Regions from separate parts of the Homo sapiens genome. Here regions 1, 3 and 4 are each reported to be linked to region 2. The links are microRNA targets in miRTarBase. Many come from high-throughput screens and were not tested one by one. Region 2 holds a microRNA gene; each other region holds the end of a gene's coding sequence.
The links. Region 2 holds the annotated microRNA hsa-miR-222-3p (AGCUACAUCUGGCUACUGGGU, at 4,718-4,738, opposite strand). A microRNA usually pairs through its seed, bases 2 to 8, with sites in the 3' UTR of a target mRNA and lowers its output. Matches are read on the target gene's strand: a 7mer-m8 pairs with bases 2 to 8, a 7mer-A1 pairs with bases 2 to 7 and ends in A, and an 8mer does both.

Region 1 (8,044 bases), not on the chromosome of region 2:
ATCTAAAGATGATTATATGTAACGACTGAAATTTGGAAGACACAGTTCCAGATTTCTGATTTGGCCACTTTCTTCTAATGCCCTTCTCAGTACTATCATTTTTAAAGTTTATAGCCATAAACTAGTGTTTTAATTCTCATGTACAGTATGTTGCTCTACAATTTGAAGTTGAGCAGAACTTAACATTTCTTGAAGCACTATTGAGAAATTCTTCTATACTGACAGAAGCTTACTTAGTATCCCTTATTATGCCTTGTCTCTGACTCAAGCATTCTAAGGGATAGATCTCATCAGAGGTCCCTTAGGTTTGTGCCCAGAATTCATCAGCTTTAGAGGTCTGTTTAGCTTTAATAGTACAGAGAAAGCCTACACTAATTTGTCCTACTTTGGGTAGTTGTGAGTTATTAAAAATGGCTGTTCATTTTATTCCCTTGCTTCGTCTTATATGGTCTACAGAAACTGCACAACTCCTCCTGGTAGTCTCTGATGGGCGAGGCCTTTTCCTTGAGGGCAAAGAAAGAGTCCTGGCAGCAGTTCAGGCTGCCCGGAATGCAAATATCTTTGTCATCTTTGTTGTATTGGACAATCCCAGTTCACGGGTGAGTGACTACTAAAAGCCACCTTTTCTGGAGGTAAAGTGGGGATTCCCTTCAACCTGTTCAATCTGAAATATGGCCTGGATCACTCAGTCATACTGAGAACTCCCAGCATTCATAGTATTCTGTCAAGTACCATTGTAGGCACTTGTAAGTATTTTCTCTATTAATCTTTGCAATAAGCCAGTGAGGTAGGGATCATTATTCCCACTTTACACTGAAGGAACTGAAACACATAGAGGTTATAGGTAATGAGTGGGAGAGCCAAGATTCAGAATGACCATCCTCTGTGGGTCATCATTTCCCTCTATGCAAAGTCAGTGCAGGTATTGCAGCCTTGATAATGGGTACTGACCACTTTGAAATGGAGATTAGGTGTTGCCACACTTAACTTATGTCTCAGTAGCTCCTCACAGCAAGAAGCATCAATCATCTTAGTGAAATATGCCTATAGGGCAGTTCTGTTCCAGGGAAGCATTGTCTCTGTGGGTCACATTAAGGCCTTGATAGGAAGGTAAAGATTTAGTGTGAATGATTCCAAGTGGATGATGGGGAGACACCACTGTAGGGAAAGCAGATTTTCCTGTCTATCCCTTTTCCTTTTTTTCAGTGTCCATCCTCCTGGAAGGGGCACTCAGAAAGACATCTACCTCCTTCTTAGTAGAGTTCTGAAAATTCTCTTTTACTTAGTAATAAAAGGTAGGTTCATATGCAGGAATAAGACACAGGAGATGTAAAAGTTAGCAAAAGAGATCACAGAAGAGCTAGCTAAGGATGCTGGTTTAATCGCTGCCTCCCCATTTCAAAATGTCTTTTGTTGACAGGATTCTATCTTGGACATTAAAGTACCGATATTTAAAGGACCTGGAGAGATGCCTGAAATCCGATCCTACATGGAAGAGTTCCCATTCCCATACTATATCATTCTTCGAGATGTAAACGCACTTCCTGAGACACTCAGCGATGCCCTCAGACAGTGGTTTGAGTTGGTGACAGCCTCTGACCACCCATAGAACAGAAAGAAGAGTCCAAAGTGAGACTTAACTGTGGTCAGAAGGTCACATTGCTTACCCAGGTGCTCCCTTTTGGACAACTACAAAAAATTTTATTGTAATATTTTTATTTTACAACGTGATCTTACAGCCTACAGAATGCTCTCTGGCTCCCGGCTTTGCCTGGGCTGAGGTTTTTATACCAAACCTGGAAGCAGCAGCAGGTGCCTGAACTCGTAACTAGAGAAGAGTTATCCTTCTTCCCTGCCTTGGAAGCCCTGGCCTGGGAGGAGGTCATACCCCACCGTTGGAGCCCAGCTGCCTGTTTTCTTTTGCAGGGGATCTGGGCACCTGTGCCTTGAGGAGATGCTGCCAGGAGCATGGGACTCTGACAGTCCTTTGTATAAAGGACTAAAGGGAGCTGCCCTTTTGACCCTGTTCTAAGCTCTGCCTTGCCAAGCCCATAGTGTGTGCCCAAAAGCTGTCAAGTGGCCAAGACAGCTCGTTTCTGGAGAGTATGAGGGTGTGTTTTCTTATTGTGAAAGGAACTACCTTCTCTTAGAGGGTAGGAAGAATGTGGTGTGTGTGTGTTCTCATAAAGCAACTGGACATTATAGGTGCCCAGGTCATCTATAAAAACGATCCTTGGGCTGTGTAAAAATGAAGTGGCTTTTCAGTATCCTCTTTCACACTTGCTGCTTCGGGAGACTATGCAATGATGGGAAGGTGATTGCCCCTTTATTTCATTCAGTGCCATGGTCCCTGTTGTTGTAGTAATTTATTTGTTTAGTTCATTTTTTTTTTTCTTAACAGTCAAGGGGAAGAGTGATTCCTCACACTGCTTTCAAGCTGGACTGAGCCAGTCTCATTCTGGGAAAGAAACGCTGTGTCCAGAACTCAGCAGCTCCATCTATTTTTTCCAGTCGAAAGAAACTGATCTTTAGGCAGTTTTTACTTGGCCAGAAAGCAGTGCTGAATACTTGAAACTGTGTGCTCTGTTCTACTTAATGTTCTGTCAGAATGTTCTTTTGTAGGCAGTATGTCATGATGTAATCATCTATCTCCTTGTCTGTTTCCAAGTTACACTGTGAAGTCTGCGACCCTTTTGAGGTGGTCATCAAAGACACAGATTCCTTGTTTAACCAAGTGTCCCAAAGCATGTACCTGAAGTTATATCATTTTTTATTCTAAAAAGCTATGCAGCTTATATTCTGAAAACTATTAAAACATATACCACTGTTGTTGATGTAATTTGTGACTCTTCTTAATGGAAGATGACAGGATTGTAAAAGGTATGCTAGGGGACTGATCTTCTCTGCTGGATCAGTCAGTCAGCTGTTACTAGTTGATGCTGTGCTAACATGATCCCCTCCTACTTCCATGTTGCTCTTACTACAAAGGTTATCATTTGCATTTATGTCCATGGTAGGCTGAGCTATAATATGCTGGCTTTGCAGCAGAATGAAAAGGATGAGTTGGTGTAGCCTTATAAGGAGGCTTATAAAAATTAATTATCCTCCATAAATGATGATGTTGCATCCCACTCACATTTCATTGGCTAAAGCCCTCTATGGGGCAGGGAGTTTAATCTTCCAGTAGGGTTGAGTCTGGGAGGGAAAGACACCAATATTATGACAATGCTGCAGTCTATTACATCTGCCTTTGGAAGCTCCATCTTTCTTAGACCTCAAACTGGTGTGCCCAGAGTGATTCCCTTGGCCCTGGGTTAGCTCATGAGATCATGGACAGTAGGAATTCCAGGAAGCAGGAACCCAAGAGTGCCATTTTCAACTTGTGCTGCCAACAGGGGCTTGCAGGAGTAGTGATCAATTAATCTGCCATGTTGATAGTTGACATTTGTGCTATCCTGCCCACCCCCCCCTCCCCCAACCCCCCAGGCCTTGGCCAAATAGGTAAGTAAGTAAGTTCTGATATTTAAGGAATGGACAGCAGAACACAAAAGTCCTCCATGCTGTCTTAAAAATCTCACTTTGGGGCTGGGTGCAGTGGCTCACGCCTATAATCCCAGCACTTTGGGAGGCCAAGGTGGGTGGATCACTTAAGGTTAGGAGTTAGTTTGAGACCAGGCTGGCCCATATGGTGAAACCCCATCTCTACTAAAAATACAGAAAATTAGCTGGGTGTGGTGACGCGCACCTGTAATCCCAAGCTACTTGGGAGGCTGAGGCAGGAGAACTGCTTGAACCAGGAGGTGGAGGTTGCAGTGAACTGAGATTGTGCCACTGCACTCCAGCCTGGGCAACAGAGCAAGACTCTATCTCAACAACAACAATAAAATCTCACTTTGGATAACTTCTTCACCACTCCCGTGGCCTCCACCATCACTGAAGCAAAAGGACTGTAAAATTCTCCATCCAGGGGTCCAGGAAATCTACTCTTTGGTATTCTTAATTATATTCAGACATCTGCTGGATGTCACTGTGTTCTAATTCCCCTATTCCAAACCCATTCCTTCAACATTCCCCATCTGGGATGACCACTCCAACAGCCACCCTGTTTACAAACTTGGGACTTAACCTATACATCTGCTTTACTTCCTTCTCCATCTCTATCCATACCCCAATCAAATTAATTAATCATCTTGTCCAGTCAGGCTTCTGGATATCCTGTCCCATCCCTCCCCCTCCCCCTACTGCACTGTGACTGGGACTCTTTTAATCTCTAGCAGGGACTACTTCAATGGTATCCTGGCCAGGCCAGTAACTTCTCTTTGCTTGCTTCACTTCATCCTATTCACAACATCCAAGATCTTTCTAAAAGTTCTGTAGCTGAAAATCCCTTCAAAGCTCTCCCTTGTGAAGAGGGTAATATTCAAGCTTCTTCATGTGACCTGTGAGGCTCTTGCTTGACTCTCCTGTCCCTCCTCTCCCAGCATTCCTGCCAGTGTTTCCATGTGTTGTCTGGAATCCTCTTAGTGATTCTGCGTTTCTGACAAATACCTAGCTCAGACAAGCCCTCCAGGAAGAATAATTTCCCACAGTATGAACTGCAGCATTCTTTGTTAGCACTATATTGAACTTAGAGGTTTTCCTGCCCAAAGCATGAGTCTTTGAGCAAGGAGCATATGTGACTCACGACAGCATTACCAGTGTCTAGCAAGAGTGAGCCCTTTTTTTTTTTTTTTTTTTTTTTTAAATAGAGCTTTGCTCTTGTTGCCCAGGCTGGAGTGCAATGGCGCAATCTCGGCTCACTGCAACCTCCGTCTCCCAGGTTCAAGCGATTCTCCTGCCTGAGCCTCCCAAGTAGCTGGGACCACAGGCGTGCGCCACCAGGCCCGGCTAATTTTTTGTATTTTAGTAGAGACGAGGTTTCACCATGTTGGCCAGGCTGGTCTCGAACTCCTGACCTCAGGTGATCCACCTCGGTATCCCAAAGTGTTGGGATTATAGGCATGAGCCACCGCACCTGGCCTGAGTGTTTCTTGATGGGAAGAAGAAATAATGTAAAAATGTCTTTCTCACATATTAATGTATAGATTCAACACTACTTCAAAATTCCAACCAAGATCACAAGATGATTTGGAGGGAAATGATACAAAACATTTCTAAAGATTATAGAGAACAGTACTAATGGATTTTTTACAAGAAACTAGAGTCCTGCCAGATAATAAAAACATATAAAACAAAAAGTAAAAACTTAACCCTAAATGAAACAATTCTGGACAGATTACTCAGACCCTAAAAGAATTTATCATACAGTCAAAAAGGCATCCATCATAAAGCCCCGAAAAAGGAATGAGTTATGTAATCAATGGTATTGATACAGCTTAACATCTAGAAAAGAACTTAGATCCACGTGATGCTGTAAACCAAAGTAAATTCTAGATGGAGTAAATATTTTAAAAATTAAAGTTTTTAAAAAACGAATTACAAAGGCCTGAATGGGAAATGAAAAGCCTCAAAAGGCACAAAAATACATGATTGTATAAAGTTTCTGTATGTATAAAGAAATGACAAAAAATATAGAGCCCATATAAATGTCCTCATCATAAACGGACCCAAGTCATGAACAATTCACAAAAACAGTATAACTAAAAATGGCGAGGGGTATTTAACTTCACTCCTTTTAAAAAGTTAGCAATTAACTATTACAGCTAATGTATTAGACAAAATTTGGCATATATTATTGATAATATGATCATGCAGTTAGCATCATTCATACAATGCCTGGTAAAGTTCAAAAGAGCTAATGATTAGAGTTCTTACATGTGCCAGGACCTGTTCTCAGTACATTAGAGATACACAACTGAGGTAGATGCTATATTTCACTTTACAGGGGAGGTAATAGGCCAGGAGAGGGGAAATAGCCAGAACACAGCTAGGAATAGGGAGCCCCAGGATGCTAACAGGCGAGGCAAGCAAGTCCCCAGTAAACTAGTAATTGAACATTTTTCGTTCTATTTTAATTCGATACAACACCACTTGGAAAATTAATATGGCAAAGATTCGCTAACTCCACTTCTAGTGATTTAACCCAAAGGCATGTGTATTGTGGGAAAGATAAAACAACTATAAGGAAATAAAAGCAAAAGCCTGAGGCTTAGGGATGTTAGGCTCCTCGTTATTAGTGATGAAAAGTGCTTAAGACTGAAGTGGGTGAGCCATTCAAAGCTTTGTTTCAAATGATCATGAAGGCCACCGCTCCCGGAAAACCTTTGCGCTACAAAAGAACAGGACAAAAACGAGAAAGAGAAAAAACCAACACAAACTGTAAAAGAAATTAACACTTTCAATTTTAGTATTTTCAACTATACACATTTTTAAAGGCTCGAAAGAACATTTAAATACGTTTTCACCTCTTTCCCCCAAAAAAACCTTAACTTTTTTTTCGAGACAGGGTCTCGCTCTGTCGCCCAGGATGGAGTGCAGTGGTGCGATCTCGGATCACTGCAACCTTCACTTCTCGGGTTCAAGCGATTCTCCTGCCTCAGCATCCCGAGGAGCTGGGATTACAGGCACCTTACAGGCCTCCCAGAGTGCTTGGGACTGCAGGTGAGAGCCACCGCGCCCGGCCTCCTTCACTTTCATTTGAACTCTCTTTACCAGGAACTGTGTTAAGTGCCCTACCTTTCTTCTTTATCAAAACGACCCTATGGTGCACTGTTATCCTATTTTACCGACGAGAAAACTTCGGCCAGCGCAGCAGCTAGGGCTCAGTCCCGAAGCCTCGCGCTCTCAGTCCGAGAGCAACCCGCGGGCCGTCTCCTAGGAAACCGGGCTCGCCACACCCCTTGGTCGAACCCCACTTCCGCTCCTGCGCGCTGAGGCTCCGGCGGACCTCTGGTGGACATGGCTGCTTCCCGCTTACCCCCAGCGACGCTAACGTTAAAGCAGGTACCGGCGGTTCTCTGCCTTCCAAAGCAGCTTACCTGGGTCTGAGCTGGATTCTCCATCTGTCCCTATCCCCAACGGGGCGGGTTCCGGGGTCCTGATGCGGCGTGCGCGCCCTCTGAGATTGGCCCGATGCCTGCGGGGCGGTGCTTCGCTCCGCGGGGCCTGACGGGAGGCACTGGCTGCTTCCTTGGTTTGGTGCGATCGCGTGAGACAGCGTCAGGCGCTTGATTTCCCTGAGTCCCGGTGCCTCAGCTGCCCAGTGCCCACGGTAAAAGTCTATTGCACTGAGCTGTGGCAAACAGCAAATGAGATTACCAAAGATTTGAACAACTGTTAATTTAGAAAAAGTGCTGTCGTTGTAATAACAACTTCTAGGAGACCGGCAGCCCTTTTCAGCCCGGTAGGCAGCTCCTGATTTTTTAATGGTTCTTAGGTTTGACAGAGCAGTAAGCAAAAAGATCAGATGAACCTCGTGATGCTTTCTTTAAAACATCTTTTTGAGACAGGGCCTCACTCTCGCCCAGGCTGAGTGCAGTAGCGCAATGAAGGCTTACCTCAGCTTAGACCTCCTGGGCTCAAGTGATCCTCCCATCTTGGCCTCCCAAAGTGCTGGGATTACAGGCCTGAGCCACTGCATCTGGCCAAAAAAAGAAAAAAAAAAGTTTTTCTTTGCCTTTTTCAAAATTGACCAACGAGAAGTACTCTGGTTACAGCTTGGTTTGCTGAAGTAGAACTTTCCAGGCTGGCGATTGTGCAGTAGTAATTGCTATTTACTCCTCCCTTTTACAGTTCGTAAGAAGGCAACAAGTTCTTCTCCTCTACAGAAGGATTTTGCAAACAATTCGGCAAGTTCCAAATGATTCTGATCGCAAATACCTGAAAGATTGGGCAAGAGAAGAATTCAGAAGAAACAAAAGTGCCACCGAAGAGGTGAGAACAAAATCATGGTGAGGACAGATCCTAACCCTTTTTATTGATCAGTGAATTTTTTTTTTTAAGTTTAGCAGACATCTTGGAATATAGTGCCACTGAGCTGGTATATCTTGATCATTGCTTGTAATGTTACCGATTTTAAATTATTATTTTAAAATTTAGTATTTTA
Region 2 (8,071 bases):
GGAGTGGCCAGGCATGGTGGCTCATGCCTGTAATTCCAGCACTTTGTGAGGCCAAGGGTGGGTGGATCTATTGAGCTCAGGAGTTTGAGACCAGCCTGGGCAACATGGTGAAACCCTGTCTCTACCAAAAATACAAAAAATTAGCCAGGTGTGGTGGCACATGCCTGTACTCCCAGCTACTCGGGAAGCTGAGGTGGGAGGATCACTTAAGCCTGGGTGGTCAAGGCTGCAGAGGGCTAAAATCTCACCACTGCACTCCAGCCTGGGCAACACAGCAAGAACCTGTCTCAAATAATAATAAATAATAAAATCAAAGGGGAAGCAGAATTTAAAGGTTTGGAACATTCTCAGCCTGGCCAAGTGCAAAAGCATTTGGAAGAAAACACCAGGGGTGTGAAGAAGTGACCATTTGCAAGGAGATTAGTATGGATAGAAGAAAGTCATACACTGTTCATCAAGACAATGAAAAGTGACCCTGAACACGGTGAAACCCCATCGCTACTAAAAATACAAAAATTAGCTGGGTGGTGGTGCACACCTGTAATCCCAGCTGCTGGAGAGGGTGAGGTGGGAGAACCACTTGAACCTGGGAGGTGGAGGTTGCAGTGAGCTGAGATCGTCCCGCTGCACTCCAGCCTGGGTGACAGAGTGAGACTTTGTCTCAAAACAAAACAAAACAAAACAAAAAACACCCTGAAGGCATATCAGAGACTATTGGTGCTGCCTTTCTCATGACAAGCCCGGAGTGCCAAGGCCTGGGGCACATAACTAAAACTAGGGGCTTAGGGTAACCGAAGAACCTCTGCGTTCACTGCCCAGTGATGCCTCATCTCTGCTCCATTTACTCCAGTGTAGCACTCCTCACCCACCTCAGCTGTGGTTATGCCTAGGTGTGGCTAGTGCCCCCAGTGTCCACATTATAACTCTGCAGACACACAGAGCGCAAGAGCTGTGGAGGAATGACTAATTCCACGTAGGTTTCAATGGATGACTTGGAGAGCCTCAGGACCAACACAGAGAACTGAGACAGGGATAGTGCCACCAGACTCCCCAGTGGGACAATGCCCAGGGTAGCCATAAGATTGGGACTGCCTCTGAGACTCCAGTACTGCAGAGCCACTGGAGTGTGATCCTAGCCTGGGAGAGCTGCAGACACCCAACTCCAACTTGCGAGGTGCTGTATAGAATATGCCCAACAAAACCATGGGGCTGAGGCCCCCTATGGCCTTGGGGGCTTAACCTCCACTCCAGTGTGTCTAGATTATTCTCAAGCCTTAAGATTTAATGTTGTTTACCTTGTTGGTTTTAGCACTTACTTAGGACCTGTTATTCCTTCTTTCTTTCCTATTGCTTTGTTTTGGAATGGAAATGTCTATCCTATGGTTGTTCCACCATTGTATTTTGGAAGTATATAACTTGTTTGACCTTATAGGTTCACAGCACAAAAGCAATTTGTCTCAGAATGAACCTTACCTTCAGTCTCACTCATATCTGATTTACATGAGATTCTAGACTTTTGAGTTGATGCTGGAACAAGTTAAGATCTCTGGGGCTACTGAGATGGAATGAATATATTTCATACGTAAGAACATAAATTTGGGGGGCCAGGAGCCAGACACTATGGTCTGATTGTGTCCTCCGAAGTTCATATGTTGAACCTTAGTCATCAGTGTGATAGTATTAAGAGGTACAGGCTTTAAGAGGTGATTAGGTTACAAGGGAAGAGGCCTCACTGATGGGATTAGGCTCTTTAAAAGGGGCTTGACGGAGTGTGTTCTTTCTCTTCTCCTATGTGAAGACACAGCATTCATCTTCTTTTTGCCCGTTCATCATCATATGAAGAAGCAGTAAGAAGGCCCTCACCCAACACTGAGTGCCAAGGCCTTGGCCTTGGACTTCCCAGCTTCTAGGACTATAAGAAAATAAATTACTGTTCATTATAAATTACCCAGTCGCGGGTACTTTGTTATACCAGCATGAATGGACTAAGACAGTGATCAACTCAGTTGTCAGAGGTCAGGGGTGGGATTGAATGTTGAAAGCTCCAACCCTCTAATCATACCTTGGTCTTTCTGACAACCAGCCTTCATCCTGAAGCTAACTTGCCACCACCTCTACTCCCCGCTAAGCCAAGTCATCTCATTATCTTGTTAGCATACAGAAAGACACTCATCACTCCAGAGAGTCCAAGGATCTTAGAAGCTCTTGTGTCAGGAACAGGGGACTAAGACCAAATACTTTAACAAAAGATGCTATCACCTCTATTAGTTAGAAAATTATGACAGTTTTAGCAGCTCTGTTCCAGGAACTGAGGGTGAAGACCAAATATGTCTTTTTCTTATTATATTATCACAACATTCAATCTTGCTTTGAGGATCAACCCAATACTTGTACCTGAGAGGGAAATGTAAACTTATCAATGGAATTAGGGAGTTCTTCACACCTGGCACCACTGTCAACACCTTCTCATTTAATGATAGGCAAAGGGACTCAAAGAACATCAGAAGTAAGGAGTGGAGGACTGGGCATGGTGGTTCAAGCCTGTAATCCCAGCACTTTTGGAGGCTGAGGCGAGAGGATCACTTGAGCCCAAGAGTTCTGTACCAGTGCACTCCAGCCTGAATGACAGAATGAGAACTCATCTCTTTAAAAAAAAAAAAAAAAAAGTATGAGTGGACATGGGAGAAGAGAAACTGTCCCTTTGGTAATTATGATTTATTAAACATAACCATGTTGCACAGAGCCACTTATTTCTCTTAAAAGCCTGTCAAACGTCTTAAGTGGAATTACTTTCTCTTCCCGGGTCACAAAAGCCAGTGGCTCAGGTACAGAATAGATAATAGAACTGATTGGTGAGTAGGAAGCCAAAAGACACACACAGAGAACAGTACAATCTTTTAAAAGCTCCAAGTCATTAGCTTTATTTTTACTGAATTCAGCATGGGATGACAAAAATGCATTATATCACTACCATCCATTATTACATGTAGACATTTATCCTTGTATTCTTTATATGTCCATTTTCTACGTTAAATCTGTTAACCAATACTAATTTAAATTACATGATTTCCTACTAAAAATATGCAGTTCATATAAGCAAGGGCAAATAAATCCTCCTTAAAACATTTTATTCCTTTATAATTGAGAACTTAACAGTCTTAATGGCTAGTTCTTAAAAAATGTTTATAGGATTAAGTTTATTTAAGAGAGCAGACAAACAAAACATATTGTAAAACTAGTATTTTCCAGAAGCAATTTCCATTCTCTTCCTTTCTTCCTGCAAACTGGTGTTTTATCTTTACAAGTTCTCTGTCATTCCATAAGAAAGCTGAACAGTGGTTAAAACATCCAGTTTGCTTGAATTCCTGAGTGATTCAGATTCCAGTGAGATTGAGGGTCATTCATAACAGTTACAAGGCTGGTGTGGTAAAGGGAGAACAAAAATAAACTGGGTTTCTGCAGGTAAGTGAGAAGACAAAATGAAGAGGAATAAGGTTGTAAGGCAGTATGATTAGGCTTGTGGGTGCTATGCCTTCTGATAATAATTATGAACAGAAATAGAAGCCAAAAAGTAAACAACATGTAAGTTGTCAATCTTTGACAGTTGAGGCAGGGAGAAGGAAGGAAGGATGACATTACACCTTATCTCTGGTTTACTAGGCTGGTGTGTGAGACCATTTGGGTGAAATCGTATTGAAATCATTCATTGCTGAGGTGATCAGCTTTCTTGCGGTCCTTTCTCTGCACTCTATTCAATGATAAACTCCACTGGTTTATACCTCCTGGAAAACAGTTATTCAGAAACATTATAGGGGTAGCATTGGTGAGACAGCCAATGGAGAACATGTTTCCAGGTAGCCTGAAACCCAGCAGACAATGTAGCTGTTGCCTAACGAACACAGAAATCTACATTGTATGCCAGGTTCATGCCCCAGACCTGGATGTTCAGCTTGCAAGTAATTCTCACATACTATTTCAACACAACTGCCTACTGCATTCAAGATTTCAAAATTGGCATTTGTCTTTTCTACCACAAGGAAAAGAAAACCAACAGTCAGAAATGCTGGGACTTACCTACTACCAACAAAATTTCCTTAAACCATCATATCATCAAGTTGTCATCATTTAATCATGACATCATGTTGAAAATGCCATCTAAAAGTCAAGAGATGAAAAAGCTGGATGGAAGGAAGGTCGGATAGATAAACTGGTAGGTACGTGGGCAGGTGGGTGGATGGATGGATGGATGGGTGGATGGATAAATGGGTGGATGGGTAGGGGTAGATAGGTAGGTAGGTAGATAGATGAATAGATTGATCTATCCAAATGATACCTTTCATAGGGGGGAAAGAGAAAAAAAGAGGTAAAACAAAAACAGGTAAGAGCTAAAACATGGATAAATATCCAGATTCCTCCCCCTTGTAGTATTGAAAGCAAATAGACCTCATCATTCATAAAACCTTGAAGGTTCCCAAGCCCCAGCTGATAATGTTGGACTTAACACCCTAGAACTTGACTCTCTCCTCTCTCTCTGTCTCTCTCTCTCTCTCTCTCTCTCTCTCTTTGTGTGTGTGTGAGTGTGTGTGTGAGTGTGTGTGTGTGTGTGTGTGTGTGTGTGTGTGTGTGTGTGTAATTCAAGGTAAAGTTTTCATTATTAAAGACTGCCCAATAATCTCTCTCAGGACACTGAAGCAGAAGCTAGAAGATGCCATCAGAGACCCAGTAGCCAGATGTAGCTGCTGATTACGAAAGACAGGATCTACACTGGCTACTGAGCCATTGAGGGTACCTACACCTTCCAGCAGCTGGGTGATCCTTTGCCTTCTGGGGAGGGGCTCTGTGGAAGAAAAAAGAAGATATCAGATTTCAATTGCACATTTTCTTTGGATCATGAATTGACATTTTGACAATATTCCCATGTACGTAATTTTAAACAACCTCTGGATTTATTTACTTATCCAACAGATACTGACTGAGTGACATTAAATAAAGTGCCACATATTTTCTTAGGTGCTGGAGATCCAGCAGCAAACAAAAAAAGTGGAAAATCTCTATACTTCTACAGCATACATGATTCCTTGTGACAAAATCTACAATCAATTATTTGGTATGTTTTGCAGTAAAATGGAAATATACACAAGAGAAAAACAAACAAGCAAACAAAAAACCAATCTACCATTTTATTGTGGCTTGGAGCATTTTTGTTGCTTCCTGTCACTTTAACTTGGGTAATCTAGCAATGATGCACATATGTAAAGTAAATTGCAGTTAAAAAATTCTTTCGTGTTACGAACTGAGGATAATACAGTTATTTTACCAAATATCTCAAACACCAAAGAAAATTACAGAAAATGCATATTATAATAAATATTCAAAGCAGGTGCTCACTAGCATGTCAGTTCCAAGCTTTCCTCCCATGATACAATGAAGGTAACAAAATAAGTCACAGGATTGGTGTTCTCTTTGCTATTCATTTATCCACCCCAGAAATACTTACTGAGTACCTTCAATAAGTACCTTTCAGTACCTTACTGAAATACTTCTGCGTGCTTTATTCCAGGCACTGGGAATGCAACACTGAACAAAATCCTTGCACTCACGGAAGTTTAAGTCTAAGATTTAAGGAAAGGGTAGAAAAAGACTGAAAAAAACCTCCATAGATATGGACGGTCATTTCATAGAGTAATGAAACAGTTAAGAGGAATGCTATTTTCGATAAGGTGGCTAGGAAAAGCCTCACTGAGGGCCTGGCATTTGAGTGGATTCCTGAAGTAGGAGGAGAAGAATCATGTACATACCTGGGGTGGGAAAGGACACCACAGGGAGAGGCAAGAGTCAGAACAAAAAGCACTGAAACAGGAAAAAGCCTGGTATCTTGGACAAGGTGTTCTTTTATTAGCACATGACCACATGGCCAATTATTGTTTCCTACTTTTAGGATTATTCTAGAAGGTAAATGACTATGCAACTTTTCTCCAAGTACACGTCTTAGAATCCTTTGCTGTGAATTTAAAATGCTTCAGCTATCACTTAGAAAAGATTTAATAAAGCTACTGTCAATTGGAAACTAGTACCATTTGATCGGACATGCAGCTATACCACAGTATGACACACACATATTTATCACCAAGAGAAAAGTGGCTTTTTAAAAATGTGTTAGCTATAAGAAAAGATAACCAGCTTTCTGGGAGCTCTAAATATATACATATCTAGGGAATGATTTAACTATTTAATCACAGATGTCTAATTTTAAGAGGCAACTCACTTGCCAAATTATAGTAATAGTGCTTCACCAGTGTGGTTAGCTCTTGGTGGGGGAGGATAAGGGTGGAATTTACAAGGTGAAGCAGGGGTTTTTTTGATTGCTTGCTTTTTTTTCTCTTTAAATAAGTTAAGGCCAATCCCATCTATGAAGTATATTTTGGCACTGCCTACAAACCAGAGCATACATACTGAAGTGGGGGAAAAGACCGTTTATATAGGTTTGGCTAAGTCTTACCCTCAATGTAAAATAAAGCATTTGTAGAACACACAAACTTACATTTCATAAACCACTAAAACTAACTGTTCATAACTCTACTTTTATGAATAAGACTAACAATTAAAGTGAGGCAAGGGTTTAGTGTGGTCACTTTCAATGCCAAAATACAAAAGATTATCTTTTATAAATCTTTACATTTAGATGAGAAAAGGTAAATTTTTAATTCTCAAAGGTATCTATTCTCCACATCTTAGTACTAAAGTTAAGGTGGTCTTTTGCCCCTTGTTTTAAATTTAATCTAGGTAATACAAATAGGAAAATCTGTAAATAAAATTTTATTAAAGGTTATTCTGTAAATTAGTGTCAACCACTAAACAATACTATACAGTTTTAAGTTTATTAAAAACACAAAGAATAGAATATGTAGAATATATAACACCATAGAATATTAACCAATAATGCATTTTCAGTTTAAAAATAAAAGGAAAAGAAAAGAAATAGGTTCAAACTAGAAATGTTGAGTTATATAATTCTGTTATCTAACAATTAAGATGACAACTAAGCCCCAAGGGTGAGTGATAGGACTGTAACCAAGGTACTTCTGCTCAAGTCCTAGTCACACTGCAAACAAACAAAACAAAAATAATAATAAACAAAAACTCCCATACATTCTGGCTAAAGACCATTTATTTGAGGTATGAGAAAGAGTTTAAAGGGAGGGAAAGACTATTAAAAGTTAAGCCTGCCACCTGCTGTTGGAAGGCCTGCTTTGAACTGGGATAAAGACCATTTCTTGAAATGTTAACCTAGAATTTGAAGAGCTTACACTCCACACGGTTAGAACAGGGGCAACCTATACACCAAACCAAGAAGTAAAGAAACCCATTGATGTTTAAAGCTACACTGAGAGAGATAAAAGTCACATTCGCATCAAAGTTCTACTGGAAATGAAAGAAATGCTGCTTCGTGCGTCATTCTACTGAAGGAAGAGTAGAATTACTCTGTCTTTTAAACTGATTACCTGGACAATTCTATTTTGCCCCCAAAAAGCATCTCTGACTTTAGAAATTATCATTTTTAGAAAGAAATTTTGACCCTAGGGACTATATGTGGAAGTAAATGAAGAGAGATGAACGATTTCACAGCATTGCCAGAATGCTAACTTTACCAAGTCAAAATTGTCTAATTCACTGTTTTTAACACAAATGTGAAAGAATCTATGCTTCTTTGAGTAAAAGAACTTCCAGATGCTTTCCAGTTCCATGATTTTCTATAACCTCACAAAGTCTGGCCCCACATGTCCCCCTAAACCCCATCCATGATATTTCACATATTTTTGTTCATGCACCAGTAGTTTTCTGTAACTAAATAGGAATAGAGTCAAATTCTATCACAATCATGTTTAGGGATTTGACAGAGCATAAGCCAGTCCACTATTCTAATGAAGTCAGAGTTTACTTTAGAAGTGAACAAAAACTGCCACCCACAGTGTATATCTCATGTTAAGTGATTCTTAACATATACACAAACACAGACACAAAACCAAAGGGATACAATGAAACTTTGAGAGATGTTGAATACATCCATTAC
Region 3 (8,071 bases), not on the chromosome of region 2:
GCATTTAGTACCTAAATCATAGGGTGTTGCAAGTTAAATGTTAATGTATGTAAAGCACTTAAAAACATTTAGTGACAGACTATAAAAATAAAAATATATGTAAACAAATATAAACATGCTTTTTTTGTTTCTGAGTGCTCCACTAAACAACATCCGTGGCATAGAAACAATTTTGGAGCTTAAAGAAATTCAAGGTATTCATTGTTAACTAGCCTCTAAGAATAAAACAAACAGAAAAAAGTTTTATAACTAATAGAGAAGCTGTGCAGCCTGACTTGGTTCTTCACATTTTAAATTATTTGATAAACTTGGTTCTCTTGCTCCTGAAGCATTTTGGATCTCGGTTTATATTAATATTGCAACAAAATAATTAGGAGTATTTGTAGCTAATTTCTACAACATCCTCATTGTTCCTTCACTGTAGAATGGAATTTTATATAAAGGCTGTGCCTTAGATTCCAGGCAAGGAGACTTGTGCGTAAGTTACCTAAAAAACTTAGTTTGATCATTTGTACAGGGATTCTGATGACCGAATTACTATAAGTATTGGTAAATAAATTTATAGTAATTTGGTCATCAGAATCCCTTGTACAAATGATTAAACTAGGCATGCACTACTACTCCCAGCTAATTTTTTGTAGAGACAGGGTTTCACCATGTTACTCAGGCTAGTCCTGAATTCCTGGGCTCAAGCAGTTCGGCTGCCTCAGCCTCCCAAAGTGCTAGGATTACAAGTGTGAGCTACTGCTCCCAGCCGTTTTTTTTTTCCAAGTAAAATTTTAAATTATATTTTTGGCCTAGATTTTTAGAATTAAAAGGAACTTATTTTTTTTGAAGAGTGCCACATTATGAGGTTAAAGTACAAAAGAAGGAGAGGATAGTCACTAAGATCTGCCTTTCTTTTCCCAACAGTTCAATCAATGTACTGAATATAACTGCTGAAGAAATTAAACCAAATCAGGTTGGAGGAGAATGTACAAATCAAAAATGGAGTGTGGCATCAAGACCTGGATCACAGGAAGGTTGCTATAGTGGATGCTCCTTGAGCTACACAAATTCTCATGTAGAAAAAGATGACTTACCTTAGACATGTGGACTGGAATTTTTTTCATTAATGTGTTCATCAAGTTTCACATCTAAGTTGAAACAGGGTGTGTCATAAAGTCAGTTATCTCTAATAACTTAAGATGGTCTGAGTTGTTTGTTTGGACTTCCCTGTCTTCCCCCAAAGAGTTGAAATCTTAAATCTATTTAAAAGGATATAAAAGCTTTGGATATGTATTTTTAGTAACAGAAGCATCTGGTTCTGTGAATAAAGGAATGTATAGATGTTTGGATGGAAACAAAAGCACTAGACTGAGTTTCCTCTTATAGGTATTAAAAATAGCACTTTTAGGAAACTGATTATTGTAAATGTTTAATTTTGTCTCAAATATAGTTGGCATTGGAAGTTTAGCCTTTACTTGAATGTATACTGTAGATTTTTAACAAAGCGAGTTCTATATTTATTATGTTTAGTGTGGTTTGAAATTACCTCTTTCATATGTTTTAAATAAAGTGAAATTTATGTATGTTTTGTACATAGATACACATGATTATGTTAAGAGGCTTTAAGATTTAAAAGTTTCACACAACCATAAGTATAGTATTTCATGCCAGTAAAATTTTTTTAGTGGTATTCTGTTTACAGATGTATTAGGACCATTGATGCATTACATTTAAGAATTCTCTTTAATACATCTGGGCAATAAATATTGAAAGGTATTCCATGAAGCTGAGTTCTTTAGATAATCAACACTACTAACATTACATTTTTGAGATTTTTATGACATTAGATTTTTATTTTGTATATGTAGAATATTATAATTTTTAAAAGGACTATTGATGATAGAAGAATAGGGGCAAGACGACAAAAGTACCTTTGAATAAAACAATTTAAGAAATTGGTTTAAGATATTGGATGATAGAAGATATTTAAGATATCTAGATGGTGATATTTTCCTTACAAGATGGGTACCAGTATAGTAATATCTGTATACTAACTAGGGCTTTGTATTGTCAATAATTTTTTAATAATTTTTTAATGAGGTATTTACCACTGAAGAAATATGATAATATAAAACCATCAAATTTTATAATTGAGATGATACTCTGGAAAAACATGTCATTTCATTTTCAGAAAACTCTTAAGCTCTCTTCAGTCTCTGTAATGTTTCTGATTGCATGTTTCTTCATGAAAAGTATGTTGTTGTTTTGATAGTAATAATAATAAATGTAGGCTCAGCTCTTTCCCAGGATTTTCATCAAAAAGCTTTAAGTGCCTAACCCTGCTTGTCTCTGTACATAGAAGCCTGCACAGATCCAACCCTTGCTAGGTATCATAGTTTAGGCCCATTTACCTTCCCCTGTACTGGCAGTTCAGCCGCTTACATGCACTCACCCTGTTTGTGGCTATTTTAAATTCATATTATTAAAAAACAAAAAAAACCCACCTATTTGTGTTGTCCATTCACTATACGTAACTATGTAACTCTTTGGAGTTGCATAGCAGCAGCCATTTTTTCAGGGCTGATAGGATATCATTAAGAGTGTCTTATGAGACATTAGTGGATATACTCATAGTAACCATATTTATAGTTTTAAAGAGCTAGCTCTTGAGCATTAGTCACTACCTTCAGCTTGATGCATGGTCACTTCTTTACTATTTAAAATACTACACATTGTACAAAATATCGAAGACACTACCATATGCTAAAGGAAGAAATCTAGCTGGGATATAGGATTTTTGTTGTTTTTGTTTTTGTTTGTTTTGCTATTTAGCAATAACATGGTCAAAAAGGCAATCAGAAATTTTAAATACAGTTAATGGATACATTTGGCAACAATTTTCCCCCGAGGGTTTTCCATGGTGTACTTTGCAAGAAATAAGCACTCTAATTTTTAAAGTAAATCTCTTATTTTAGCAAATATTATATTTCATGACAATGGAGTTCTAGAAAGCAGCATCTGTTTTTTGTTGCGTGTTTCCATTTTAAAGTGAGTTGAGTTCTCAAATTGGAAAGAAAGATTCCTTGAGACGTACTTTTAAAATCTAAAGTGTGAAAGAAACAGCAGAGTAAAAGCCAGACTCATTGCACCTTCAATGTCTGCATAGATCCAGAAGTTGTACATTTTACCTAACAACATCACTTTTGTTGAACATTCCAACTCCAGAATGATCCCCAATCACCCTAATCTCAGAATGCTGGAATGATGTCTGTTGGAAAACCCAGGACTCCACACACAAAACTCCTGGGATTTTGTTTCCCATCTCTTTCTAGGTGTTTGCAATGTACAAATAATACAGCTGTGCTAATCTCACATTTAGCCATGATAGATGATGGTTCTAGAGTGTACTTCCATTTGTAAGTCCTCCTGATAAGTGCTTTCTTGTTTATCACTATGTAAATCTGAAATATTTTGTACTTCATTTGTTTTTATCCATTCTGAATTTTCAAAGCATAAAAATGTCAAAGAAAAATTGAGATAAACATTTTGTTCACCATTAAATGTTTGCATCTGCAGTCTATGATGAGAAACAATGAAATTATGACTAAAATTTAACAAATAGTATTTTCTTATAGAAGCAATGTATTAAATGATTAGATACACAGGACAGTTCACAGCAAATTGTTTACTTACATGGCATAATTGAAATACTGTTATTTGTAAAGAGTTCTATACTGCCTACCTTAGCTAACCAGAATTGTTCATAGACTTGTGATAATATGGTGTTATGGGAAAACACATTTTGTGCGCATGATGAAGAGAGCACCGTGAATCTAGTCTTGACTGCCCCTGGTGGAACATTTGAAAGCCCTTGGGACTCCAGGAGAGAGGTTTTTGCAGCATGTATGCTAAATTTGTGAGTTAGCAAGACCCTGCTGTGATTACTATGTTGTACAGATCTTCAAAGTATATTGCCTAATATGAGTCATGTTATTTCTAGATTGAATTTAAAGTAAGTATGGATTATGGAAGTCTAGTAAATATACTTTTCCCTATTTTTGTCCTTTTTCAGTCTTTTGGTAAGCATTTATTAAGTACCTGCTGTATGTCAAGGCTTACTACTGCTTTCCAATCCTTGGTGATATGAAGACAGATAAGCACGCTGCCTGCTATTAGGAATCTGAGCTGAGTGGAAGGCCAACTATTAAACCTACATTGTAATAAACAATGGTGGATGCTACGGACACATTCAGTCTGTTCATAAAACATGGACTGATGGGTCTGCTCCAGGCCACATTTGTTTTTTAACAGTAACGTGGCTAGGCTTCCATTTATAAGTCTTAGCATTATTTCCTTTGTGAAGTACTATGTAACAGATGATTGTTTGCTAGATTTTGTTTTCTACAATCAAAATGTTGACCTGCAAAGCAGTGTAGGATTTTCTCTCCTCAAGAGCGTGTATTATTATCTAGTAGAAAAAGCATTCCCAAAGACTTGGTCCATGCAGATAAGGATAATGAAATTGCTCACTCTAATCCTTTTTCTAAATACAGTGTTTTTCAAGCTGGATGTAAATTAGAGTGGGTGGATATTGATTAAATTATTTGATTTATATGAAATCAAATGACTGGTTGAGGTTTTTTTGAACATTTACAAATAATGGATTCCTGAGAGCTCAGGAAGTACTGTAATGTCAGTGACATATGAAGCTCCTGATAAAGATCCACCTCATTCATATATTTGAGCTTCAGAAATACATGTACCTAGTATAATGCTTAACAGCACATAATATTTGTTGATGAGAAATACACTGATGAAACAACACATTTTTTTACTGGAATGAATGGACTATAAGTTTGGGGTTAGAATCCTAAAACTCCTCTTTCTCAAGAGGGTAAGAACCTTGTCATGAATCTATGCATGTGTACTTCCAACCCTATCTCAATTCCTTGCATATAGAGTATCATGATAGAGTAGGTTATGCTGCAATTAAACATTAAGTCGGTGTGGCGTAATAAAATTTATGCTCATGAAATGTCCAGTGTCAACTGGGCAATCCTCCATTTTTAGCTATGCCATCTGGACGCATGGTCTCCAACATCGCCAAATCAGAGCGAGCAGACTAGCAGATGGTGTAGGATATTTTTAAGGGCCAGACCTGAAAGAGACATGCCTTCCACCTACAGCCTCACTGCAAACAAGACTGGGAGGTATAGAACATGTAGCTATTTGGTGAGCACTTACAATCTGCTATCAAATGTAGTTGATGCTAGGTATTTCGTCCATGCATATTACTCTGCAAGGGGTTTATTGCTGATTATTAAAGCAAATATTCTTAATTTTTGGAAGGAATGTATTTTAAAGCTCCTCACACTTTCTAACCTTTTTATAATACAAGTTTCTGAATGTTCAAATGGTAGTTTTACTCATTTAGTTATTAAAGTATCTTACAGTGCACAGAACACTTTTATTTTTCAACTGTCAGGGAATCTTAACCTTCCTATTTTTAGAGTTGATAACAGACTCAAGTGTTAAATAATGAACCCAAGGTCACATAACTGCTGTTAAGTGATAAGACCAGACTTTAACCCATATCTTAGGTTTGCTAAATTTCCACCTTTTCCCACACTGCTGCAGTGCCTGCTTGTAGGGCTTTCTAAGTGAAATTATTCACCCATTAGCTGCCACCTATAATCTACATCAAAAGTAGTGATCATTTGGTCCATGTTCAAGACTTGGCCTCATTTTTTTGTGATTGGTTACCATGGCAGATCTATTCAGGGTTGGACCACTACCTTTCTGCAATTAAGATACTAAGGATTTCATTGAAATAGCTAATTTAGTAGTTTATGATACTCTAAAGGCCATTGAGTAATCTGAAGATATGTCTAGATCACCTGCAATTTGTGTGTGTGTGTGTGTGACAGTGTCACCCAGGCTGGAGTGCAGTGGTGCCATCTTGCCTCACTGCAGCCTTGCTCTCCCGGGCTCAGGCAGTCCTACCACAGGCTTCCAAGTAGCTGGGACTACAGATGTGCGCCACTACACCTGGCTAGTTTTTTGTATTTTTTATAGAGATGGGGTCTCACCATGTTGGACAGGCTGGTCTCGAACTCCCAGGCTCAAGTGATCCGCCCCCCTTGGCCTCCCAAAGGGTTGGGATTACAGACGTGAGCCACCGCCTCTGGCCAGCCTGTATTTTTCTGCCCTGCCATTTTGTTCACTCTTGGCAGTTTGTGTGCCGTGTCCCAACTGTAGCTACAGTCACAGTGACCAGAAATACTTCATTTTGTCCAAAAGGTTCAGTCACCTTTTGCAGACATTTTATCATGAAAAATAAAGTAGTAGAATTAACAGGAATATTTTTACTCAGTTTTAGAAGGAAAACGGCTGATGTAGGGCAGCTGGATATTTTCTAGTTTCTCTGTTGCATCTGCATTTAGATAGATTTTCTTGTTTCTGGTCTGTCATGACAGTTTCATTCCTTTTTACAGTGTTCTATTAAACCAAACCATACCCCAGCCCAGTGTACTCATTAGAAAAAAGTAAACATTTGCATATTCCCTAGAACCCTAAAACTGATAACAAGAACCTACCCTCCATTCTGGCTTTTGGATCCAATTTTCTATTATGTATGATGTCTAAACCGAGGTGGTCAATTGTTCATCCCAGCCAGGCATAGGATCAGACAGCTGAGTTCCCTAGGATTAGACTGCTAGTGCTTAGCCATGACTACTATGGCTGGTTTTGTTAACCTGTAAGTATAGTTTTTACTTGACTAAAACATGCTGTAATTTATTTACCCTACCTTGAGATTTTTTTCTTCTGTAATTCTCAGCCCAGAACTATTATTTCAAACTAAACTTGTATTTCACATTTTTAATTAGTGAAGAGGCTCAACGAAATGCAATTTTCAAATAGTCACCCAATAGTATAAAGCTTTTGTGGAATATCAATTTAATTTCTAGCCACTTTTAGTTTCTTTTATCTTGAAAATCTTTTACCTTAATAACTAGTTGATTTGGTTTTGTAATGTTATTCCTTTTAAGCAAAGAGGTATTAAATAATAAGGAAGGCTGGGTGTGGTGGCTCACGGCTGTAATCCCAACACTTTGAGAGACCAATGCAGGCAGATCACCTGAGGTCAGGAGTTTGAAACCAGCCTGGCCAACATGGTGAAACCCCATCTCTACTAAAAATACAAAAATTAGCCGGGCGTGGTGGCAGGCGCCTGTAATCCCAGCAACTCGGGAGGCTGAGGCAGAAGAATTGCTTGAACCCGGGAGGGGTAGGTTGCAGTGAGCCTAGATCACGCCATTGTACTCCAGCCTGGGGGACAAGAGCAAGACTTCGTCTCAAAAATAAATAAATAAAAAATAAATAAATAAGGAAAATCTCTATAAATTAGATCTCAGTGAAATTAAACTTTTCCAAACAAATAGTTTTTCAGATTCTGTGTTAATGCCCCAAAGAAAACTAGAAATCCAACAACTAGCCACACAAAGCCTTGGTACATATGTTCTAAAGAAGCTATTTTGATCTTAAACCATGAAAAATTTTAACTGGAATTTTAAAAATCACATTGCCTTTTTATTTCCAAAGCACTTGTCTTCATTTTTATCAAGGGCAAATATCTGAGGAAACAACTCATAAATGCTTTTTGTTGTTGTTGAGACAGAGTCTTACTCTGTTGCCCAGGCTGGAGTGCAGCGGCGTGATCTCAGCTTACTGCAACCTCTGCCTCCGGTGTTCAAGCAATTCTTCTGCCTCAGCCTCCCAAGTAACTGGGATTTCATGCATGCACCACCATGCCCAGCTAATTTTTGTATTTTTAGTAGATACAGGGTTTCTCCATGTTGGCAAGGCTGGTCTCAAACTCCTGACCTCAAGTGATCTGCCTGCCTCAGCCTCCCAAAGTGCTGGGATTACAGGCATGTGCTGCCACGCCTGGCCTCATAAATGCTTTTAATTGAAATTCTTTGATAAGGAACGAAAAGACTATGGTAAATCTCAGAGGCAGGTTCTGGCCTTGGCAGTGAGGGCCAGAAAGGGGTGTACATCAGAGACACAGTTGCTTGTGGTG
Region 4 (8,071 bases), not on the chromosome of region 2:
CAAAGTAAGAGCCTAACTCAAAAATAAAAGGAGCATCTCAAGGTAGATGGCCAGTTGTTGTCCATCTCTACCCAGAACTACTAAAAAACTGGCTGAGATAACATCAAAGTGAGCTGTCTCACGTTAAATGTAAGAATTTTTCTTATAGAGCTTGGTTACCAAGGTAACCAATGATCTCTTTGTTCTAATTACTAAAATAGTAACGTAAAACTCTCTTCATTGGCCCAGAATAACAACACTGGGGAAGCATCTGTTAATTGGTAGAAGGGGCGTGTGAGGCGTCTCCGTGGATGTGCACTGTGTCATCTGTCATTCTTTCTGTAGTGCCTTAAGGGATTGAATGTTTCAAAGGTGCCAGGTCACAAGAGAAGGTCCTCAATGATGGGGGCAGCACTGTGGGCAGTGAGGAATAATCAGTAACATTTATTTTAACAACTTCCAGGCATATTGTAGGCTGAGCCAGGGCTGACCACGGTGTCAGCAGCCATGAAGCATCGCAGGTTCTCCCCACTTTCCTTTCAGGACAGCCTGCCAGCCTCCTGGCTGCTGGCAGAGGACGTGGGCTCCGGGGTGACAAAGGGGATTTCAGTCACAGTAACAGGAGCAGTAGCCAGAGGGTCAGCATTTGTTTGAACATCTGAGCCCCCAGCCCCGAAGTGGGACGCAAAGTGGGCCAGGAGATGCCTGCACACACAGTGGGTGGTGTGGTGGCGGAGGGGCCTGAGCTTGAGGAGCGGACTTTCAGCTGCTCAGGAGGCCAAGACAGGGGGGTCACTTGAAGTGCACCTGCCTGGCCTTTGGTACGGAGGGCAACAGTGTCTTGATTACACTGATCAGTAAGCAAACGTCCCTTCGTGCTGGAGAAAGAGGCCATCGCCATCTCCCCAGGCTGCGCTCTGTACAAACAGCCCAACAAGAGCATGTGGATATAACACAAAGAAATGCAAGGGGCCCATGGAGAGTGATTCCCAATACCATGTGGTCGGTTAACTGAGAATAGAAGTAGAAGGCAGAGCTGGAAAGAAAGAAATTCAATCAACTAACCCCAGGGACGAGGAGCCAGGTCTAGAGAATGTGACTGGCTGGCCCAGGGACAGGCAGCCGTCAGAGGCAGAGTTCGTCTGAGTGGGGCCCACGCCACCTCCCTCGCAGCATTGAGAGCGCACAGCACACTTGCAGGTACAAGCCTTTGCTTGTGCTTAAGGGACAGCACTCTATTCGCTATCACAGGGAGTCCAGCCTCTGGGCAAAACTCACCTGGAAAAGCACTGCCAATAGTTGAGATGATCCATCGTAGTGGGATCCAAAGCGCTTCCCTCACCCACTCTATTTCAAAATCTATCAGAGCAATATGCCTCCTACAACGAAAGAAAGAAGCGAAAAGAACAGTAAAGCAATTTCTTAACCATTCCCTCTTAGCCAAATTCAGGAAGTCAACATCACTTTAATTTTTTCAGTCCAAAACTACGTGGAGTCCCTACTCAGTGCCAAGAAAACGTATATTGAAATCTCTTGTTTCAACAGGATGATGACTCTCTCAATTACCAACTTCTCTAACAGTTTGGAAATGTAAGGCATAGTAAAATAGATGAATATATCTTTACAAAGAGCCCGACGACATAAAATAACTCCATGGATGCTTCTGGGAAGTCCAGGATCTGGCATCTCTCATAAACAGACACACTGATATTATGATGGATGCGCACGGCATTTCAAGTCACTTTAATACCTTTCAAACGAGAGAAAGCAGAGAGCAGGAATCTGGGACATCCTCCAGGATTTAAATGCTCTGGGCTTGAATATGTTGCCAACTCAGCATTGCTCTATTGTGTTAAGCCATGGCAAACGTGACCTAGAGGAAGTGTCCGCCTTTAAACAGTGACAACTCACCCAAAACCCAAAGAAGTAAATATACAGGAGTTTTAAAATAATACAAAAACTATTTTTATTATTTTTAAAGCCAGCACGGTGGCTTTTGGCATCACTATCCATTTCTAATACAAAACTGGATTAAATAAATATCATCCAATGTATAAATAGATCATGAAACAATTGTGAAGATAAAAAGAGAATTCTTCTGTAATTAAAAAAAATTAACTTTAAAAATTTTCTTTAGTGGTGAATCAAGAACAAATCCCTATGTCACTTGAGAATTTGTCAATTATGATACAAATATTGATAGAATACGTCTTCATGCTGTAAAGTGTTACACATAAAAGATTAAATAGAAAAATCTCTTCTGACTGCCTGTTGCTCCTGCCATTCATACTAATCTTCATTTTTTCTTAGTTGTTAGTCATCCATATAAAGAACTGCCCCGATGCCTGTGTAGGGAGGGTGAGTGTGAGGGTGTGTGGGTGAGTGTGAGGGTGAGTGTGTGGGTGAGTGTGTGAGGGTGAGGGTGAGCTATGTGCTCATCCGTGCATGGGGGTCTGAGGAGGGGAATCCGTTCGGAGAGGGCCAGCCACCAAACAGGACATGTTGTGGCAAGCCACACCATGACAAAGAACATGTCTCTGCTAGGAATATGTGGGCATCTGGCCCACGAAAAGCTCTGTGGTTCCCACTTTCTCCACAATGAAGAAGATGCCAGCTCAGTGGCCTTTGGCGTACGATCTTTTCATTAGAATATGGGAAAGGTGTAGAGGCCCCAAGTACAGATACGACATTAAATTGGGTGGTGCGTGTAGGCGCTTTTGAAATTTCATTCTAAAAAATCCAAAGTGCCTAAGTTACGTGAACACAGATTAAGTGACACAAAAAGAACGCTTCCTTCAGAAGTATCCGCCGCATAATCTCATCTCTGCCTCACTTACTTCCTATGCAGTAGGTCTTGGAAAAGGGATACATTCGCAACGATCAATCCTTGGATTAACTTTTTTTAGTCAGGGAAGGGCACGGTATTAATTCTGAAATAAGCTTCAGAAAAAAATGTAAGAAGCAGGCATGAGATAGCCTTAATATACACTAGAAAGCAGTTCTATATATCTTACCTATTTCCTTTAAAAATCTTATGTACATAAATCTTGAAATTGATTTACATGCCAAACTATTTTATCTTGAATATTTCCAAACATAAATCTGTGTGATGGTCATTTCATGTTAAAATGTGTATCTTAATGAGTTACAAATATTCTTCTAAAATGAGGAAAACCCACAGCAAGACAAGAAATCCACTTCTACTTCTAAAAATTGTGTAGCTGTGCTAACACATGCGTCTCTTGTAATAAATGTGATATGAGTTCAAAGGAAGACACAGAACACTAGCTATAATTTCAAAGATCAAGTTTCCTTAAAATATTACAACAGGGGAGTAGAAAATATGCACGAAGGAAACATCCCCTAGTTAAGTGCCAGACAAGCACTGATGTTCATGTCCCACCAGCAGAACACTGTCAGGAAGAGGAGAGTGGCATTTGATGAGCCTCCCACTGACCTGGCTGCAAGCTGTCAGATGCCATGTCATAGCATTTCCTCTATTTAGATACTTTCTAAGTGCCTCAAGTTTTTCAAAGGGGAAAAAGTAGAGCTTGATGGGGGTGGGGTAGCATTTCAATCTGCATGTTTGAAAACATGTCTTCATTTTCATCTATTGCCATTCTATGGAAACGCAGCCGCTTGGGCATTATCTAGCAGGTGGGACTCCACACATGCTACATGCCTCCTGCTTCCTCAGTACCTGCACCCCACCTTCACGTTTGGTATCTTTGCAAAGGCAATTCATTCTTTCAGCTTCAGTGCTTCATGGTTACTTGAGCACACAAGCAGGATCAAAACACTTAGGAACTTTCAAAAGGTTCCTCAATGACTGGGTGCCGTTGAATAAAGCAGCAAATGAAAGGGAACAGGAACAGTTCTGACACATGCACAGGGCACTGTGCTGACGCCCACGGCTCGCTGTCGCGGAGCCATGCCCTGATTTTGAAAGTCTGAAGCCTTTCCAGTGGACACTGCAGGGGTAAACGCCTCTGAACTTCACAGAGGTAAAGGAAAATACCACTAAAGTTTTCTCTTAAAAATATCTGAACTTGAAATTAATTTACATGCCAAACTGTTTTATCTTAAATATTTTCAAACGAAAAAAATTAATCACATTTCCTAACTTCATCTTTTATTTATAGTTATTCCAAAGCAGATATGCTATGATGAGATAGTTCTAAAAATACAGTTCTTTATCCTCAAAACCCTGGTTATACATGAGGCCTAGAAATCTCTTTTCTAGAATTTTTAAAACAACCAGTAAAATATAAAGATCAACCTGTACCCCACAAAGATTCAAGTAAAATTATGTCTTTTCAAAACCTTATATTTTCAAGGAATGTTCTGCAAAAAAGCAGCTTTTATAATTAGGAAGTAAATCGAAATAATACATAAAATGTCTTGTGTTTGCTAATAAATTGAGAAAAGACACAAAATTGAATTATTGATATTTTCTTTTTCTTTAACCAAAATAAAAGTAGGCTCTAGATTCACCTGTTAAGGCCTTAAACAGTCAATTAACCAATACAATTCACCAAACTAGCTTTCTATACAATTAGGAATTAAACAACCCCTTTTAGAGATGTCCTGAGATGACATTTAATGCTAAAATCAAAATAAATAACCCAGCAAGAACAAAAGTTTAAAATTCCAATAATTTCCACTTTGGGGATATTTTTTCACCAAAATTAATCAACATTTCTAAAATATTTCAATACAAAATTATAAAATAAAAAGTGCATTAAAAGCAGAACCTTTAAAACTCTAGCACAATTACAGTTATTCTGCATATGCGGCTACAGCCAGGTTTACACACTGACATTCAAGGAAGGAAACCTCCGGATTGGTAAGAAGTCCAGTATCACAAGCATAAGTCAAATAAGGCTTTTCTTTTTCTTAAAAAAATATACAATACACAAAGCAGTTTGGAAAAGAAGTAATATTATTTAACAATTTTCTGACTTAAATATCTTCACATAACAAAAGTTTTCATATCACCGTCAATATTACTTATATACATATGCCAAAAGTGAACAACAACAACAAAAAAATCAAAAGATGCCCTTTCAAAATAACAGTAAAATGTCTATTTCTTTAGGAATCTGAAATGAGCTCCTCTCTTAATATACAAAGTCCATACAATATTTATAATAAAACTACTCTCTTCTGAAACCAAGGAGGCAACGAGAGAAAATAAAGGCAATTATTTTTCAGGAAAAAAAAATAAAACCCAGCTTTATATGACAATGAAAAAGATATCCATTTATGAATAAAATGAATACAATACTGATCTGAAGTGCTCGTGGGGAGGTGAAACTGACGCTCTTTCTGCAATTAGGACTAGTACTTATATTTACAAAATATACTGTTCAGCCACACAGAGGCCCATATATCTATGTACATATGTATTTATATATAGAACATATAAATAATTTCAAAGGAAAAATTAACATGAAGTAAAGAACCTTCCATCTTTGGAATGCTGTAGGAATGGCGTGCACGCACTCTGCCCAGCACGGGTGGGATTTGGTTTGGGACATGTTTTATGTGGCACCATTGACGATACTAAAGAATTCCCTGAAATCAAAAATACATCTGTTTATGCACGAAGAGAAAGTCATGGGGTTTTTACGGATTCGTGGCCTTAAGCTACAGATATGCTTCTTATTTGCTGGGGTGGACAGGGCCACCGTTGCTTGCTCCTTGCAGACGGTTCTGTGGTTTCCTACCTGCGATGTATGGCTTGTGCTTCTGCAATTATGTAACCCTGGACCTGAACACAGATTGATGCGGTAAGTGTGTCGCCAGCCCGTGTGGACAGCTGAATCCTTATTGGTGGGTCAGGTTTACTCGAGTCCCCATGTTGACGCCCCAGATACTGCATTCTTGTAACTAATGATTAAACATTTGTCATGGAGAGAATTGGTCCAGCCATCTCTCAAGGTATCAGTTATATTAACTTATGGTAGACTGAAAAGAGTCCATTTTGACTAATTTTCAAAATGCACAGAGAAAAGAGTGGAAAAAACTTCCCTGTGTGTTGTAACACTTTTTTTTCTGAACTTCATGCCTCAATCTTACGCTTGCTTTGTAAGCTATGCTTCTTATAACCAGAAACATGAAGGAAAATCTGACATACTTTTTCAATGTTAGCGTTTTTGTCTTTGCTAATACAAAGAAATCACACTACAATGATAGTAAGACCCAGTTAATTGCTTCGTGAACTAGACACACTAGCCACGGAGGAGACTGAGGAGGAAACTGCCTACAGTAGTACCTGAGTTCAGTGATTTGTAGACAAAAGAGAACAATGCGGTGACACTTTTCCTAGTTTTTTTTTCCTATGAGTCTCTGAAAGACAATGATTCTTTAGATAATTTTATAGATAAAAAACTATTGTAGCATTTTTAACACTTGAAGCTTTAAAACGGAGATTCCAAGTGCTTTGCTCTTCACAAAACGTAACTTCAGAAACATTCTTAAAGGTGTACTTCCAACTCGCATCAGAAGACGTGGGTGAGGGCCTGCCACTCGCCGGCGGCCTCCTGCACCACCTCCTCCAGGTGGAGGGTCCGGCTCAGCTCCTCCCCGTCCTGCTCCGGGTGACCTGCAGACTCCTGCAGAGCTCCTGTTATGCAGACAAAGAAAACACAAGCAGCCTCAGACCTTCCAGAGCACAAAATGATTCCTATTTAAATAAAGACTTTCTGGTAGAAAGAGACAAGGAATTTCTAAAGTAATTTGCTTTTCATTCCAGTGAAAAAAGAGTAATTTGAGCTGCAGGTGAAACACCTCTGCCGGCAGGACAGTAGTTACTGTTAGGAGTATGAACGCACACACAGCACTGGTGATATGAGTGCACTCCTATGACAGCTACATTAACACAGCATCAGGAATGAGCAATAACCAACACACATGATTTCCATAATAAAAAGGAAAGCAGGAAGCACTACAGTGTAGACGTTAAAGAGAAAAAATTACCCCTTTTTCCTTCCTCAAAAACTCCCCACAATATAGTGTTCTGCCCTCGGGTTCCCTACACTGAAAGCCGTCGAGCTCCCCTCACAAAGTACCGCACCTCAAACAACCAAAGAACACCTGCAAGCCTCACAGAGCACACCACCACCTCCAACACCAAATCACAAATCTCACAGATCACACCACCTCCAACACCAAATCACAAATCTCAGAGATCACACCACCTCCAACAACAAATCACAAACCTCACAGATCACACCACCTCCAACAACCAAATCACAAATCTCACAGATCACACCACCTCCAACACCAAATCACAAATCTCACAGATCACACCACCACCTCCAACACCAAATCACAAATCTCACAGATCACATCACCACCCCTAACACCAAATCACAAATCTCACAGAGCACACCACCTCCAACAACAAATCACAAACCTCACAGATCACACCACCTCCAACAACCAAATCACAAATCTCACAGATCACACCACCTCCAACAACAAATCACAAATGTCACAGATCACACCACCTCCAACAACAAAACAAAAATCTCACAGATCACATCACCACCCCTAACACCAAATCACAAATAACACATCTCACGAATCACATCACCTCCAACAACCAAATAACACATCTCACGAATCACATCACCTCCAACAACCAAATAACACATCTCACGAATCACATCACCTCCAACAACCAAATAACACATCTCACGAATCACATCACCTCCAACAACCAAATAACACATCTCACGAATCACATCACCTCCAACAACCAAATAACACATCTCACGAATCACATCACCTCCAACAACCAAATAACACATTTCACGAATCACATCACCTCCAACAACCAAACAAACCACAGATCTCACAGAGCATACCACCTCGAACAATCAAATCACACCCGCAAAATGCATGGAGCACACCAAGGGGTCTACTCAGACTTTAACATTTCTAGTTCCTTGCATAGCTACTGCCACCCTCTGAAACCTAGTCTAGGCCATCTATTATCATTCCTTCCTCAGAGATGGATGCCACTGCTAGATTCTGTGTAGGAAACAAAGGTGAACAAGGGACAGACAAGCAGTAGGATCACACC

Region 1: the mRNA of MDN1 is a reported target of hsa-miR-222-3p. The part of its 3' UTR that is shown has no 7-base or 8-base seed match.
Region 3: miRTarBase lists SSX2IP as a target of hsa-miR-222-3p. The part of its 3' UTR that is shown has no 7-base or 8-base seed match.
Region 4: the mRNA of ZNF236 is a reported target of hsa-miR-222-3p. Seed matches in the 3' UTR shown: 8mer at 3,652-3,659.

What each region holds. Positions count from the first base shown.
Region 1 is chr6:89,637,570-89,645,613 of GRCh38, reverse strand. MDN1 (midasin AAA ATPase 1) reads left to right here. Exons shown (of 102, transcript NM_014611.3): 101 at 457-599; 102 at 1,421-3,116. The coding sequence ends at 1,609. It overlaps LYRM2 (LYR motif containing 2), which reads left to right and starts at 6,867. Exons shown (of 3, transcript NM_020466.5): 1 at 6,867-6,942; 2 at 7,732-7,872. The coding sequence starts at 6,898. MDN1-AS1 (MDN1 antisense RNA 1) reads right to left here and starts at 7,082. Exons shown (of 4, transcript NR_111915.1): 1 at 6,978-7,082. RefSeq lists enhancers at 7,068-7,117, 7,338-7,567, 6,920-8,044.
Region 2 is chrX:45,742,319-45,750,389 of GRCh38, forward strand. It overlaps MIR222 (microRNA 222), which reads right to left and starts at 4,806; the gene lies at 4,697-4,806. MIR222HG (miR222/221 cluster host gene) reads right to left here. Exons shown (of 2, transcript NR_170290.1): 2 at 2,896-8,071. It overlaps MIR221 (microRNA 221), which reads right to left and starts at 3,948; the gene lies at 3,839-3,948.
Region 3 is chr1:84,640,449-84,648,519 of GRCh38, reverse strand. SSX2IP (SSX family member 2 interacting protein) reads left to right here. Exons shown (of 14, transcript NM_001166293.2): 14 at 913-4,814. The coding sequence ends at 1,087. Among named protein-coding and RNA genes, the nearest start is that of LINC01555, 9.5 kb to the right of the region's middle.
Region 4 is chr18:76,966,751-76,974,821 of GRCh38, reverse strand. It overlaps ZNF236 (zinc finger protein 236), which reads right to left. Exons shown (of 31, transcript NM_001306089.2): 31 at 1,921-6,607. The coding sequence ends at 6,483. Among named protein-coding and RNA genes, the nearest start is that of MBP-AS1, 9.6 kb to the left of the region's middle. RefSeq lists an enhancer at 7,649-8,071.